4 linked regions of the Homo sapiens genome follow. The protein of the gene in region 3 purifies or fractionates together with the protein of the main gene of each other region. This does not show direct contact. Each region holds a gene or a part of one and is shown on either strand. Other genes may lie near its edges.

The links. The genes of interacting proteins can lie anywhere in the genome.
Region 1: the proteins of ARFGAP3 (region 3) and ADI1 fractionate together in Homo sapiens (co-fractionation; one large-scale study listed by BioGRID). This does not show direct contact.
Region 2: the proteins of ARFGAP3 (region 3) and SHPK purify together in Homo sapiens (affinity purification with mass spectrometry, with the first as the bait; one large-scale study listed by BioGRID). This does not show direct contact.
Region 4: the proteins of ARFGAP3 (region 3) and PPIP5K2 purify together in Homo sapiens (affinity purification with mass spectrometry, with the first as the bait; one large-scale study listed by BioGRID). This does not show direct contact.

The regions. Positions count from the first base shown.
Region 1 is NC_000002.12:3,516,732-3,520,883, reverse strand, and holds the start of ADI1 (acireductone dioxygenase), read left to right. Parts: upstream 1-1,352; 5' UTR 1,353-1,396; coding exon 1,397-1,516; intron 1,517-3,136; exon of another isoform or gene 3,137-4,152. UniProt on the Homo sapiens protein: Catalyzes 2 different reactions between oxygen and the acireductone 1,2-dihydroxy-3-keto-5-methylthiopentene (DHK-MTPene) depending upon the metal bound in the active site.
Region 2 is NC_000017.11:3,619,251-3,622,750, forward strand, and holds part of SHPK (sedoheptulokinase), read right to left. Parts: intron 2,163-3,500; coding exon 1,987-2,162; intron 679-1,986; exon of another isoform or gene 501-678; intron 195-500; exon of another isoform or gene 1-194. UniProt on the Homo sapiens protein: Acts as a modulator of macrophage activation through control of glucose metabolism.
Region 3 is NC_000022.11:42,815,774-42,819,273, reverse strand, and holds part of ARFGAP3 (ADP-ribosylation factor GTPase-activating protein 3), read left to right. Parts: intron 1-1,416; coding exon 1,417-1,545; intron 1,546-2,009; coding exon 2,010-2,132; intron 2,133-3,500.
Region 4 is NC_000005.10:103,119,030-103,123,100, reverse strand, and holds the start of PPIP5K2 (inositol hexakisphosphate and diphosphoinositol-pentakisphosphate kinase 2), read right to left. Parts: upstream 2,801-4,071; 5' UTR 2,613-2,800; intron 1-2,612. UniProt on the Homo sapiens protein: Bifunctional inositol kinase that acts in concert with the IP6K kinases IP6K1, IP6K2 and IP6K3 to synthesize the diphosphate group-containing inositol pyrophosphates diphosphoinositol pentakisphosphate, PP-InsP5, and bis-diphosphoinositol tetrakisphosphate, (PP)2-InsP4.

The sequences.
Region 1 (4,152 bases), on a different chromosome or scaffold from region 3:
GAATGAGGTCCAGGTTGGAGATGTGGCTGCAGGAGCCGGCAGCACAGCATGGAAAGTCGCCTGGAGTGAGTGGATAGGAACAGGACGAGGAGAGTCTGGAACGCTCCACTAACCAGTGGTTAGAGGAGCAGGAGCTAGGAGGGGCCTGGGAAGGAGCAGCCAAGATGCCCTCATGAAGGAAAATGAGAAAATGTTTCAAGAAGGGCGTGGGCAACTGTGACGAATGTTGCTGGTAAGAACAGAAGTGCCATGATTGGATCTGGCAATATGGCAGTCATTAGCAGTTCCCCAGTGGTGAGAAGCGAAGCCTTATTGCAGTGGCTTAAGGAGAAAATGCGAGGTGCGAGATTGCCATTAGATTCTTGCATGAAGGTTTGTCATGAGTGCTGCAGAAAAATGGGCAATGGCGTCTAAGGTGTGTTCTTGAAGGATGAGTAGTAACTGGTCAAGTGAAGAGGTGGAGAGGTAGGCTCTCTAAGGAGGATGTATTTGCAAAGCCATTAGAGCAAGGGAACAGAAATGAAATAAGTGTGTATTTTTCTTGCAATATTTCTGGAAGTTCAAGAGTCAATTGCATGCATTGGGGTTGTGCTCTTACAGCAGTCTCATTTAAATCCTGTCTGCTTTATCGTTATTTGTTAAAGAGACTGAGGGAATGGCTGAGATAATCTGATCTTTTTCAACTCGTTGGTTTGAAAAGACATCTAGGATGGTCAAGCGGCTGGACTTTATTAGCTACATTGAAAAATTCAGAATGGGATAGGGGAAGCTTGTTTTTATTCTAAGACTAGCACATTACAGTGTATGGGGAAGGGAGAAACGATGAAAAGAGGAAACAAGAGGAAGTTTAAAAAGTACAGGGTAGCACTGCAGAATGCCGACACTGCAAAAGTCTGGCGAGCGGGGAGGTGGAGGACAATGTCTCACCTGGGATCCGAGCTGTGAAGTCTCAACTGTGCCCATATGGACTGCATGAGCTTAACAAAATCCTTATTCTTTTTTTTTTTTTTTTGCATTTGCTTTCCATACTCTAAACACGTTTAACGTCGTTTGCCTCACAAGATTGCTCTGAAGGTGCAGGGAGACCGCGGCAGCACACACAAGGCACGTGCGATGCCTACGGTGAGCTTCACCTGCCCGGCGCGTCTGGCGAACGGCTGGCCCCGGGCCGCGGGCCTCAGGCAGGTCCGAGGGTGCCCAGGACAGGGTCGGGGCTTGAATGCCTTTGCTTCCGAAAACAGCGGAGCCGTGGGGCCTCCCCCGCGCCGGCCCTGCCTCCAACCAGCCGCCCAATCCCGGCTCCCATGCGCGTCCACGCCTCCCTATAAGATAAAGCGCGGCCGACGGGCTCCGAGCGCGGCCCCTGGGTTCGAACACGGCACCCGCACTGCGCGTCATGGTGCAGGCCTGGTATATGGACGACGCCCCGGGCGACCCGCGGCAACCCCACCGCCCCGACCCCGGCCGCCCAGTGGGCCTGGAGCAGCTGCGGCGGCTCGGGGTGCTCTACTGGAAGGTACGCGAGCCCAAGCCTCGCAGAGCGTGCGGGCGACGCCGACCCCCAAACGCCGCGCACAGCCCAGCCTCCTCCAGGTGCCGGGCAGCGGCCTGGGAGCCGCGGCATGCTGCGCATGCTCAGCAGCGGGATTTGGGGGTTCGTGGCGGCTCCCGGTGCCTGGGGTGGGCTGCGCATGCTCAGCAGTGGGGCTGGGTGGTCAGGGCCTCCTGCGCGGCGCCTGGGTGTGCTGCGCATGCTCAGCAGCGGCGTTGAGGGGTCGGCGGTCAGCCCCCAGCGCCTGTGGTGTGCTGCGCATGCTCAGCAGCGAAGTTTACGGGGTTGGCGGTCGGCTTCCGGCGCCTGGGGTGGGCTGCGCATGCTCAGCAGCGGGGCTGGTGGGGGTCGGCGGTCCGTTTCTGTTGCCTGGGGTGTGCTGCGCATGCTCAGCAGCAGAGTTGGCGAGTCAGGGGCCTCGCAGCCGGGACTCGCTGCGCACGCGCAGCTCCGGGATTGGCAGCGACCTGAAGGGTCGGCCGGCAGGGCTGCAAGATTCGCCGGAGGCGGGCTGCGAGTTCGTGGGCTCGTTGGGCTTGTCCGACGCCCTGCCTGCCTGGCTAACCTCGGTCAAAGGCCCAGGGGTTTCTTCTATCGGAGGAAGGGGGACTCCGCTTGAAAGTGTCCTGGGGGAGGGACCGGGCGCCAGCAGATCGAGGCGGGGTCCTGCCGCGGTCTGTCGGGGATCCCCGGGGGGTAGCGCTCGGTGGTGGGGTGGGGGCGTCTCCAGTGGGCGGTGGAGCTGGCTTGGGTCCCGGCTGGGCCCGGTGTCAGCCCTGCCTCTGTAACGCTAGCTTTGCAAGGCGGGGCTAGGCTTTGCACCGGTGTCCCGTTGCTTGCACAGCACCAGTCCAGATCCGCTCACCTTGTTTATTTGCAAATGGTTTTGCAGTAACAAAGGTTTACTGCAAAAGAGAGGGCCAGGGTAGGCCTCAGGGATAGGCTGAGGGGTGACTGGATCTAATCTTCATTCATGTGATTTAAATGAAATACACAGGGTTACCTGGACACCACACTTTTTCCCTTGGGAAAGGATTATAGAATATTCCAGCATAATCTATTTGGATATCATCTTGTTCTATCCTAAATAACAGAAGAGGGAAGTGACAATTGGCATACCAGTGCGAAACAGGGCATGCATGTTAATGTTTACATAGTATTTGTCTTTTCCTAGGATAAGGTTTAACACTTACCTTGCTGGAGGGTACTTCTTCAAAGCAATCAAGTGGTTTATAGTTTTCCATTAATGAGAGGAGAATAAATTTTGACTTATTATGTTTATCCACAATCCAAACAACCAGAGGGTTCAAATTAATACACTTGGGGAGTTTCATTGTGCATTTGACGGTTTTAAGAACAAGAACAAGAGTGAGATTACAGGTCAGCTTCTTAATGTATTCAAAGAATAAAATAAGATTTATTTTAATAGACATCTTTTAGATTATTACATGGGCTCAAACATAGTTTTTCCTACCGTCTAGTTCTGCTCTGAGTCAGGGCTATCAAAATTAAATCATGTTTACTCTGTGGTTTTAATGTCCTGTGTGTTTTTATATTCTTCCTTTCTTTTTTTTTTTTGCTCTTTTTGCCCAGGCTGGAGTGCAGTGGCATGATCTCGGCTCACCGCAACCTCATCTTCCCGAGTTCAAGCCATTCTCATGTGTCAGCCTCCCGAGTAGCTGGGATTACAAGGTGCACAGCACCATGCCGGGCTAATTTTGTATTTTTAGTAGAGACAGGGTTTCTCCATGTTGGTCAGGCTGATCTTGAACTGCTGACCTCAGGTGATCCACCCACTTCGGCCTCCCAAAGTGCTGGCATTATAGACACGAACCACCGCACCCGGCCTATATGCTTTCTTAATATCCATTCTGGATCAGTGCTGTTGGAAGACAAAATTACAACAAATTTAGTTAAAGATCTAATTAGCTTTTATTCTTGATTTGTGAATAGGGCAACCTCCGTTCTACAAAATAGAATAAGAGCTCGATAGGGTAATAGCACAACAGTGGGTTTTGTAGGGCGGCAACAAAGAAACAGAACAATAGGTAGAAAAGCTGATTGGTTAACGTCAAGTTACATTAGGTTACTTTTTTCCTAAGGGTTAAAGCAGAAGCGACTTCCTTATTATTCTGACTCAGGAAGACTGGAATCTTCTGATCGCAGGAAAAGCTGGTCTGTTTGAGATGCACCTCCTTCTTTAAAGTTTTAGTTTGATCAAGTGGCATATGGCATGAGTGGCTGCATTTTGGTTTGGTCTCATCCTGGGGCCTAGTGCAGGGGCTCAGTCCAAAACAGTGACCTCTCCTGGGCCAGGCATGGTGGCTTCTGTCATCCCAGCACTTTGGGAGGCTGAGGCGGCAGATTGCCTGAAGCCAGAAGTTTGAGACCTCATCTCTAAAAAAACCCAAAAAACAAAAAAGCCACACACACACCCCATATTAACATTATATATATGTAACATCTCCCATAATTTTTAACAGAGGTAACACATGTGGACATGTTTGTGTATCTGTTTAATCAATCTGTTATTAGTGACATAGAGTTCTAAAAAACCTTTTGTCATACATACAAACAATTGGAAGATTATTTTAGCTTGG
Region 2 (3,500 bases), on a different chromosome or scaffold from region 3:
AATCACACAGAAGAAGCTGCTTTTTCAATAAACGTGGCCAGCTTCACATCTCTTTTGATCAGTCCACCACAGTTACGTGAGGTGAGAGTTATCTGGACCTTGTTTTATACATTGAACCATTCCGGGTGATGATTCATCTTCTCTGCTTGTAGGGCAACTCGGGACATAAAGCCAAATGCCTGATTAAAAATTTGGACGGAGAGGCCGGGCACGATGGCTCACACCTGTAATCCCAGCACTTTGGGAGGCCAAGGCAGGCAGATCACAAGGTGAAGAGATTGAGACCATCCTGGCCAACATGGTGAAACCCCGTGTCTACTAAAAATGCAAACATTAACCAGCCATGGTGGTGTGCGCCTGTAGTCCCATCTACTCGGGAGGACAAGGCAGGAGAATCGCTTGAACCCCAGAGGCAGAGATTGCAGTGAGCCGAGATCACACCACTGCACTCCAGCCTGGGCGACAGAGTGAGACTCCATCTCAAAAAAAAAAAAAAAATTTGGAAGAAGAATGATTTGTAGATGGCATCTCTCTCTCACTTAATTCTGACCATCCTGCTGCTTTAAGATTGAGTATAGCTTGGTTCCTCTCCTCTGCTGTCTACCTGTGAGCACCTGACAACATGGCCACGAGCCCTGGGCTCCGGCCTCCCAGCGCCGCCAAGCGCCATATCGTCCCACGTTCTCACGTTTTTAAATGGTTGAAAAAAAATTAAAAGAAGAATTTTTCATGACACATGAAAATTATGTGGCATTCCCATTTCAGTGTCTATGAACAATGTTTTATTGGAACACAGCTACACCCGCTCATTTACATATCGTCTATGGCTGCTTTTGAATTCCTACAGCACAGCTGAGCAGTTACAACAGAGACGGCATGATCCGCAAAGCCGAAAATATTTACAGAAAATATTTTCTGCCCTTTAGAGTAAAAGAGCCAATCCCTGCCCTAGACACAGCTGCCTCTACCTCACCATGATTCCCTTACTATGAATACAGAAAATATTCTACACTTCTTTTTTTTTTTTTGAGACAGAGTCTTGCTCTGTCGCCCAGGCCGGAGTGCAGTGGCACGATCTCGGCTCACTGCAAGCTCTGCCTTCCGGGTTCACACCATTCTCCTGCCTCAGCCTCCCAAGTAGCTGGGACTACAGGCGCCCATCACTATGCCTGGCTAATTTTTTCTATTTTTTTTTTTAATACAGATGGGGTTTCACCGTGTTAGCCAGGATGGTCTCGATCTCCTGACCTCGTGATCCACCTGCCTTGGCCTCCCAAAGTGCTGGGATTACAGGCATGAGCCACTGCGCCCGGCCGTTTTGTTTTGTTTTGAGATGGAGTCTCGCTCTGTCGTCAGGCTGGAGTGCAGTGATGTGATCTCAGCTCACTGAAACCTCCGCCTCCCGGGTTCAAGCGATTCTCTGCCTCAGCCTCCTGAGTAGCTGGGATTACAGGCACCCACCACCACACCTGGCTAATTTTGGTATTTTTAGTAGAGACAGGGTTTCACCATCTTGGCCAGGCTGGTCTTGAACTCCTGACCTCGTGATCCGCCTGCCTCGGCCTCCCAAAGTGCTGGGATTACAGGCGTGAGCCACCGCGCCCAGCCTATCCTGCACTTCTAATCAGATCTGACATCACTTCCAACACAGTAACCAAAACCCTCATCAGCTCATCTGTTTTCTTGGGCCCGGAGTCACATAGAAACCAGAAAGCTAGAAAGAGCCGTTTCTCTCACCCAGCCCCAGAGGTGGTCAGCACAGATGGTTGGTGCTCAGGGACAGAACTTGCCCTGCTGGCCTGTAAGCTCCCTCAATAGAGGATTTTACCTGCAAGGACAAGGGTGCTTTTCATCTTTACAGAATAATGATCTCCAGCAGGATGCCAAGACTGCTAAGCTCTGTGTGCCCTGCAGACTCGCACAGAGCTGGTGCTTATGAGGCAGGCGACAGTGTAAGTCTGAGGACAGAACAAAAGAAAAACTTACCTGCATCTGTCCTCTGGGCCATGCAGGAATAGACAGAGGCCTGTAAATCACCCAAGGCCACTCCCACCTGCGTCCCCTTTGGGATTTCAAACCACATGTGGGAAGTTCTGCCCGCCACACTGCCAGGCTCGGCGATGTCTGGGAGCAGGTGGACAGGAAAACCCGAGCTCCTCAGTCTGTAAAACAGAAGTGGACACCCACATGGACCCACAGTTAGGTTTCGGGAATTTAAGGGATCCTTCCTTCCTTCCTCCCTTCCTTCTCTCCATTCCTCCCTCCCTTCTTCCTTTCCTTTCCTCCCTCCCTCCCTTCTCTTTACTCCTTCCCTCTTTCCCTCCCTTCCTTTCCTCCTTCTCTCCATTCCTTCCCTCCCTCCCTCCCTCCCTTCCTTCCTTCCTTCCTTCTTTCTTTCTTTTTTACTTATTTATTTTTTTGAGATGGAGTCTTGCTCTGTTGCCCAGGCTGGAGTGCAGTGGCACCATCTCAGCTCACTGCAACCTCCACCTCCCAGGTTCAAGCAATTCTCCTGCCTCAGCCTCCCTAATAGCTGGGATTACAGGCGCACACCACCATGCCCAGCTAATTTTTGTATTTTTAGTAGAGACGGGGTTTCGCCATCTTGGCCAGGCTGGTCTCGAACTCCTGACCTCACATCGTTCACCCGCTTCAGCCTCCCAAAGTGCTGGGATTACAGGCGCGACCCACCACACCCGGCTCCTTCTTTCTTTTTTTGAGACAGGGTCTAGCTCTGTTACCCAGGCTGGAGTGGAGTGGTGTGATCACTGCTCACTGTAACCTCAACCTCCCAGGCTCAAGCAATTCTCCCACCTCAGCCTCCCAAGCAGCTGGGATTACAGGCCTGCACCACCACACCCAGCTGCTTTCCTTTTTTGTTGTTGTTTGTTTGTTTCCAGGAAACTCTGCATGGGAAAGTGCTATAGGACACACATGGCCGAAGTGGGGATAGAATTCAGTGCCCTCACAGGCAGCTTCTCTGGCTTTTTTAAAACCATGAGCTTAGGCTTTGTCAATAGAGTACACTGGCTTTCATAAGCTTAGGATTCACCTTCCAGGAAAGAAAACAAACAACATAGGCAGCCGTGATCAAGTCCAGCCTCCCATGTTTGAAGGGAGCTCAAAAACTCTGCAAAGGGAGGCAGCCGGAGGTTCGGCGCCATTATGGTTGGTGAGCACAGCCCAAACCAAAGTCAAATGCAGCAGGCTCCTGAATATCAAACGTGTTAGTCACTCAGGGTTAGTGAATGGGAAGCTGTCAACTTCACACAACATGCTGGAAAGTCCTTTACCTGAACTACCAGGTGCTTTTTGTTTTATTTCAGAGCTCAGAATTTGGGCCCTGAAGGAAGTGAACTTACAGGGCACTGGACTTCTGTACCTGAAAAGGCAAATGATTGTTCAAAAAGAACTTAAAAGGCATCCTTCAAGCCTACTATCTCTAGTTCTTTTTTCTTTTTTTTTTTTTTTGAGACAAGAGTCTCGCTCTGTCCCCCAGG
Region 3 (3,500 bases):
AAAGTAGTATTTATTTGTTAAGGAATAAAATAGCCATAACCTGTTCTGTAGGAAGAGTAAGGAAAACAAACTGCCATGTGAAAACCAAAGAAATCTTGCTTGACTCATTAAAGAAAAGAAACAGCAAAAGCAAGATTACTTTTTCCTAATAAGAAATTCTGCACCGGGCGCGGTGGCTCATGCCTGTAATCCCAGGACTCTTTGAGGCAGAGGCAGGCAGATCGCCTGAGGTCAGGAGTTCGAGACCAGCCTGGCCAACATGGTGAAACCTCGTCTCTACTAAAAATAGAAAAATTAGCTGGATATGGTGGCAGGTGCCTGTAATCCCAGCTACTCGGGAGGCTGAGGCAGGAGAATTGCTTGAACCTCGTGGGTGGAGGTTGCAGTGAGCCAAGATTGCACCACTGCACTCCAGCCTGGGCGACAGAGCAAGACTCCATTTCAAAAAACAGAAAGAAATTCTGTTGTCTTTCCCTATTACTATGCAGAAATTTATTTATATTACTAGGAATTTATACAATGCCTCTTTTGCCAGGAATTCATGGTATTTTACATGTTTTTATAAAGTGGATGATAACTTAGAAATCCTTGTAAGTTAGATAGATCATTTTTCAGGGCCCTGAAATGTTGTGCTGTCTCACTAAAATATGATGCAAACTGCTATTCTTGCTATATAGGCATAGTTTTCTTTATGAAAAATTAAGTCATTATTGCATTTTTAGAAATCTGAGAGCAAGGACAATGTTTTGTACACCTTTTTACCCCTTTGGTGTCCTGCTTGTAGCAGATATTTGATTTTAAATAGAAGAGTGGTATTTGACTGACTAGTAGTGCTAAAGAGTCTATTAGCTGATGAGTCACTATCCCATTTTAAATGCTCTCAGAAGCCTGATTGCATAGAGATGTATCTACAAGAAATTATTTTGTAAATGGAAGGATCCTTTTACAATTAAGTAATAGCCCCTTAGTTGATCTATTTGTAAAGTCAAATTTATATATTTATTTATTTATCTTAAATCAAGATAGACTAGTGAGACTAACCTCATGCTTTGTTATGTAATGTGGAAGTGTAATAAAATATTAATCCAAGTAAGAAATCTTGCTTTTCACTATCCCATATGGAAGTGATTTGGGTATACATTATGTTATTATACAATAATAGGTAACATGAACTAAACTTGAACAGTGGTATAGGTTGAGCAGCAATGAGAAAGTGGCTGTAAGCTCATTCAAATTTTCTTAAACGTCTGTTCAAAAAAGGCAGGTAGAAAAAACACCAACTTGCCTTCATAATTGTTAATTATGGAAAGAATCATGAAGCTAAAAGTATAAATTACATGTTTAATTTTGCTTGCTATTTTAATATAAGAACAAAGGATTAAAGCTAAATTAAGGAGTATTTGGTTTTTCTGGCAGTGTTTCATCATTACGATTAGCCTATAAGGATCTTGAAATTCAAATGAAGAAAGACGAAAAGATGAACATTAGTGGCAAAAAAAATGTTGACTCAGACAGACTCGGCATGGGATTTGGAAATTGCAGAAGGTATGTGAGACTGCTTTCTTGGAGTTAGAATTTAAAACAGTGTGTCAATCATCAGTGGATTTTTCTTGGACTGTGTTAGTTTCAACTTTAGAGATTTTTTTTTGTTATTCATTAACTTCTCTAATTATTTTTGCTTTGCTCTGGTATTCAGTATAACATGAAAAATTTCAAATTTGGCTCTTTAAAAGAAGGAAAAAGGTCTGGCTCTTTACATGAAGCACCTACCAGAGAGGAAACCATGGACATAACCAATATTTGTGACTGCATTTGGTGTAGACACAGTCCTCACAAAATTTTAACATTTTTGAAAGCTTGCACCAGAAAAAAAAATTGTTTTATTGCTTATGTTTTTAACCCCTCGAATACATTTGTCTTTGTTCAAAACATAAATTAAAGCTTTGTTTATTTTGGTGAAACAAAAGTTTGTGAACTTACTGATATATATATTTTTCTGTTTTCTCAAGTGTTATTTCACATTCAGTGACTTCAGATATGCAGACCATAGAGCAGGAATCACCCATTATGGCAAAACCAAGAAAAAAGTATAATGATGACAGTGACGATTCATATTTTACTTCCAGCTCAAGGTACTGTATTACAAATCATCGTTGAAGTGTCATTTTGAAAAGCAGTGACTAGTATGGATTTATTAGTTTATTTGCATTAGGAGAAATTACAAATCAATTTACTTCACTGTTTTTAAAAGCTCTGGCTGGAGCCAGAGCTGTTCTTTGGAGTAAAAATTAGAGAAACGTTTGTAAAAGAACAACGTTGGCTAATATTAAAATGTTTGGCAATAAAATCAGCAACTGTGAGTTAAAATTAGAGGTAGGAGAGATGTGCTTATTTAAATTATGAAATTGGAGAAAACTGCAAAATCCTGAAGGTATGTGTTGTTTAGTCCAGCAGTGGGAATATTTCACAGCTCTTTCTCAGGGCTTCAGCAGATTTCTGTGCTTCAGAATGCCAGCTTCAGAAAACTCCAGTTGGTACAATAGTGCATTAAATAAACTCTATGGGTGTGTGTATTTATTAATGAGGAAGATGATTGTACTTTGAGGGGACCCCAGAGTAAAGCCTAGGTTTCTCTCCTTCAGCACTCACTATCTTATTGAGACAAAATGCATAACTCTAGTGTGAAGCTGACTGTGGAGAGCAGTGCACGGTCAAGTGGCCTGCCAGAGCAAAGAGAACAAGTTTAAACTTGAGTCAGTTCACTTCGTAAGGACCTGCTCGGCCCAGTGAGAGGTCTGCTAAAAAGGCACAAAATGAACCTGTGATTTCACTGGAGAGGGCACAGCTCAGGAACAGAGGGGTAAGAATATGGGCCCAGGGGCCAGATGGCATGGATTTGAATCCTGGCTTTCACTTACTTGTCACCTAGGCCAAGTTATTTAACTTCTTTGTGCTATAGCTTCCTCATCTGTAAATTAGGGACCCTAGTAATACCTACCCAATAGGGTTGTGTGAGGATCGAATGAGATACTGCGAATGCTATAGCACGTTTAGAATGGTGCTTGGCTCTTACTATGTTTAGCTGCTATATGATAATATAGAAACTCAGTTTAAGAGATGTGATTCAGTCTAAATGTTTTTTGTTTGTTTGTTTGTTTATGAGATAGAGTCTCACTCTGTCACCCAGGCTGGAGTACAGTAGCATGATCTCGGCTCACTGCAACCTCCACCTCCCAGGTTCAAGCAATTCTTATGCCTCAGCCTCCTGAGTAGCTGGGACTACAGGCGTGTGCCACCATACCCGGCTAATTTTTTGTATTTTTAATAGAGATGGAGTTTCGCCATGTTGGCCAGGCTGGTCTCAAACCCCTGACTTCAAGTGATCTGCTGGCCTCAGCCTCCCAAAGTGCTGAGATTACAGGCATGAGCCTCCACGCCCAGCCTAAATGTTTGATTACTATTGTTAGGTAGTTAAACTAACCACATTGAGGACCACCTTT
Region 4 (4,071 bases), on a different chromosome or scaffold from region 3:
ACAAATATAAATAACTCAATTTAGAATGTATCTACTTACCTCTTGTCTAATGAAGCCACAGAAACTCCCGTTTGCCACTGCTGTTGTTGGAGACCTCTTTACACCTTTTCTAGTCTTACCACACTGCTTGAGACTATCATGAACACTACTGCCTGGGATAATCATCTCTTCCATACCTTTACTGGTCACGGCCAGAGCTACCTGATCCTCAAAATAACACCCTGGATCATCCATCAGTCCCACCTAGTATTCAGATCCCCCTTACCTGAACTTAATATTTCCAAGCCATCACTGTAGCCCTTTTCATGGGTTCCCTCAGGAGCCCAACTATAAACTAGTAAATCTCTGCTCTCAAAATCAGAGGAAATGGGAGCTCCTGCTCCTGCTGCTTAGCCTAAACGCAAACACATAACCAGTTTTCCTGAAATTCCAAAAGCATTTTCCAATGGAAACACTGTTATAAATGGTGTCTCCTTTCCACCAATAGTACATCCAGGTAATAGGGAATAAATAGGCTTCTGCAGGCTGGCAAAGGCAACCTGGCTCATTTATAAGATTACACAAAAAAAGCCTATTCCAAGTTCCACACAACCTTCTTGTTGATTTCTTTTTCCTTCTTCAAACGTTCATTTAATATCTTTTTGCTGAACCTGCATTTCCTTCTGCCTGGAATTCACTGCTCTCCTTGAAAGTTCCTATCCGCCATTCAAAAACCAACTGAAAGGTCTTCAGTGAAGGTTTTCCTGAGAACTATCACACTTCTGTTAGGCCCCAAATACACATAAAAACCCTCTCCCATCTTCTATGTTCCGCAGCATTTTGGATCTATCTTTTCACTTATCTGTTTCCATCAGGGTTGGGTTTTTTCCTCCCCAACTTTTTATTATGAAAAATTTCAAATATTCGGAAAAGTTGAAAGAACAGTTTGTTAATCATCTATATGCCCACCATTATACTCACAATTGCCAACATTTTGCCATATTTGCTATTTATACACACAGACACATACACACACATACACTTGCTGTACCATTTGAAAGTACTAGATATCAACACACTTCAACTCTAAGTACGTTAGTATGTATCTGCTAAAAATAAGAACACCTTCCTACATAACCACAATTCCTTTTCCACGTGAGAAAATTAATAGTCCATAACATTGTCTATATTGTGGTTGCATGGGAGCTTTTAAAGAATGAGGACCTAATCTATATATTCCCACTACTTAACTTGGTTCATAGCACTTATTTGGGTAATCAACAGATGTTCTACCAATTGTTCAGTTTAATACCCTCACAACAACTACTCTGAAAGTCATATGAATTTAACATTTAAAACAGCAACCTTTGATTTTAAAATTTTCTGCAAATCAGTTTAGTCATTTGCTTTAAATAAACCTGTGCTGCAGTAAGTACAGTATTCTGGGTTCTGCACTACTTAATTCTGCATCACAATGCTCCATAAAGACAGAGATCATGTCTAACTTTTGTCAGACATATAAGTAGGTACACCAAAATTTTTTAAATGAATGGATACTTTCAGACACTGAAAATGTTAGTGAAGAAATTGAAATCGAGGAAGAACAGGACAGGACAATAGAATACAGATTTTGAAGGCAGACAGATCTGGTTTTTAACACAGATTCAAACGTTTACTTATAACAAATGTTTAATAGAGCAAGTTGCTTGACTGTTCAAAGCCTCCATTTCTAACTCTGTAAAATGGTGATAATAATCTAACATACCTCCTGGAATTGTTGAGAGGAATAAATGACAAACTATGTAAAGCACTCGGCACACATAAGACTCAGTTAATGGCAACTATCGTTATTATTTTATCTATCTGAGACAAAAAAATTATCTATTTCATTTAAGAATTCTCAATAGCAAAACAAAATCCTGTCCCAGTGTAGAGCGAGGATTTTACGTGCTAAGGTCAGCTATGCTTCCCACTTCCACAGTTAAGCCTTCCAGCAAGACAACTACTAGCCAAAGGACACCAAGAGTCGCAATCTCCCAGGAAGTGGTCAAGAACCTCGTGAATGAGATCCAGGGATCATCACCCTGGCCCCTTCTTCTTCAAGGCGCAGAAGGCTGCAACGACCTCCAAATGACTAGGTGCGGCAGTGCCCTGCAGCCTCGGTCCCTACTATGAAAAGCTGCAACACATGAGGCTTTTGTTATTTTAAAGTGGGTGTGGGGTTGACAGAGAGAGGGATAAAGACTAAGGCAGAAAATTTTTTAAAAAGCCACCTCTACCCACAGCAGTCCCATAACTCGAGGCTAATCACTTCAGTGGAGCCAGGCACAGCGTGGGGTAGAAGCTCAGCGGTTCCCTTTTAGCTGATCTTCAATTTCTGGCGTCTCGAACCCAAGAAATGAAAAAGGGAAGCCATGGGGGAGCAGGAGGAGAAATCAAGGCGCGAAAGGACCCTCAAAGCTGTACTGTCACTCCACGCCCAGGCTGTCATTCTCTCCAGCACAAGCCCCTCGGTGGAGCATGTGTTTAGGGTCTGCAGAGCACAGGAGACAAAGCAGAAGCCCAGCAGCCGCCTCAACCCTGGCATGATCAGGTTCCGCATCTCCGGTTCTCCTCCGGTTTTGGGCCCTCACCTGCCACGAATGCGGTCGTCACGCGAGCAGTTGTGAGATGGTCAAGCCCATTCAGGTCTAGGTTACCCCCTTTCATCCCGGAGGCAGGGGTGAGGTGTTTGTCAAGAGACTTCAGTTGTAGGCGTGGACGTAGGCTACTTCCTTCAGTAACAGCTATAGGGCCACATAAGGGAACCTCAGGCTACTACACCTCAGGAATCTCCGTCACGCCTCTTCCCCGCCCTCCTCGGGTCTCACGCCGAAACCTCACCGGGCGGAACGATTTCCGGCAAGAGCCAAATGATCAGTCCTAACCTTTCTGACCGTGGTTCCAAGGTTCCCCAAAGGACTGCCCTCTAAAGGACCCGGGTAGTTCCGCTTCCGGCAGCGCGAGATAAATCACGAGAGGAAGCTTAAATCTGTCGTTTGAATTTAGGACCACCTCGGTGAGTGGTCGTTCTGGTGTGCTGTGTCATACCTACTGTTTTTTAAAGTGAGGCGTAACCCGACAGTAATTTCAAAACCATTCGCCTCGACCGGCCTAAGGAAGGGTTTAATTGAGTCTGTGGGGAGATTTTGCGCAAGCGCCTTTGAGATAGGAGGGCCTTGGGCGTTGCGATGTCCCGCGCTAGCTGAGCAGAAAGGGCGAGTGCTGTTTCGGGCCTGGGGAGGTGCCTACTGGGTGTAATTGAGTTTTACCAAACGGTCATTTTCCTGCTGATTCTGAGTGTGGTTGGACCTTGCCCTTAAGATTCCGTTAACGAGTCGCCCAAAGCTTAGGAAATGCTCCCTCACAGCGTTTGAGACTAAGCACTTTTGGCCGGCGTTGAAGAATTCTCCCCATTACTTTGATCAGTCATTTAATCAGAAATTTTGCCCCAAATTTAAATACGTGGCGGGGAGAAACGTGAGGTCAAGAGGGAATCCTGTCACGTAGTTTTAAAAGAAAAATGTCCACTTTATCTCAGTGTAGGTTTTTCTTAAATGGGCATTTCTGAACCAAAGTAGATACTTTTTAAAGTGGAAATGCATTTATCCCATGTGGCTTCATGTGAATGCATATGGCGATGAAGGCATTTTTTTGTTCAATGAATTTGTACTCTGAAGTGAACCAGATTACAGAGAAGTGTATTTAAATTTACAGGTCCTTGACGTTGCATAAAATTGTGCGTGTCCATTTTTTGGAGCTTAAAATAGAATAATTCAAATGTCAGAATTCCGATCCAAGTTAACATGTTGATTGAAAATTGCAGATTTTAAGATGGAACCAGCGGGTATTATAACCTTTTAGGGGCTTAAATTGGTGGCTTTGTTTTTAACCCTTGGTGAAACAGTTAAGTCCTAATCTTGACATAATACCTAACTGCCTTACTTTATTGAACACAAAATTATTAAAGGAATTAAGCAATGAGTTGATTTTATTTGCTTTTATGGAGGGGACAAAGTGTATAAAGCTTAACCAAATGTGACCCTGACATTC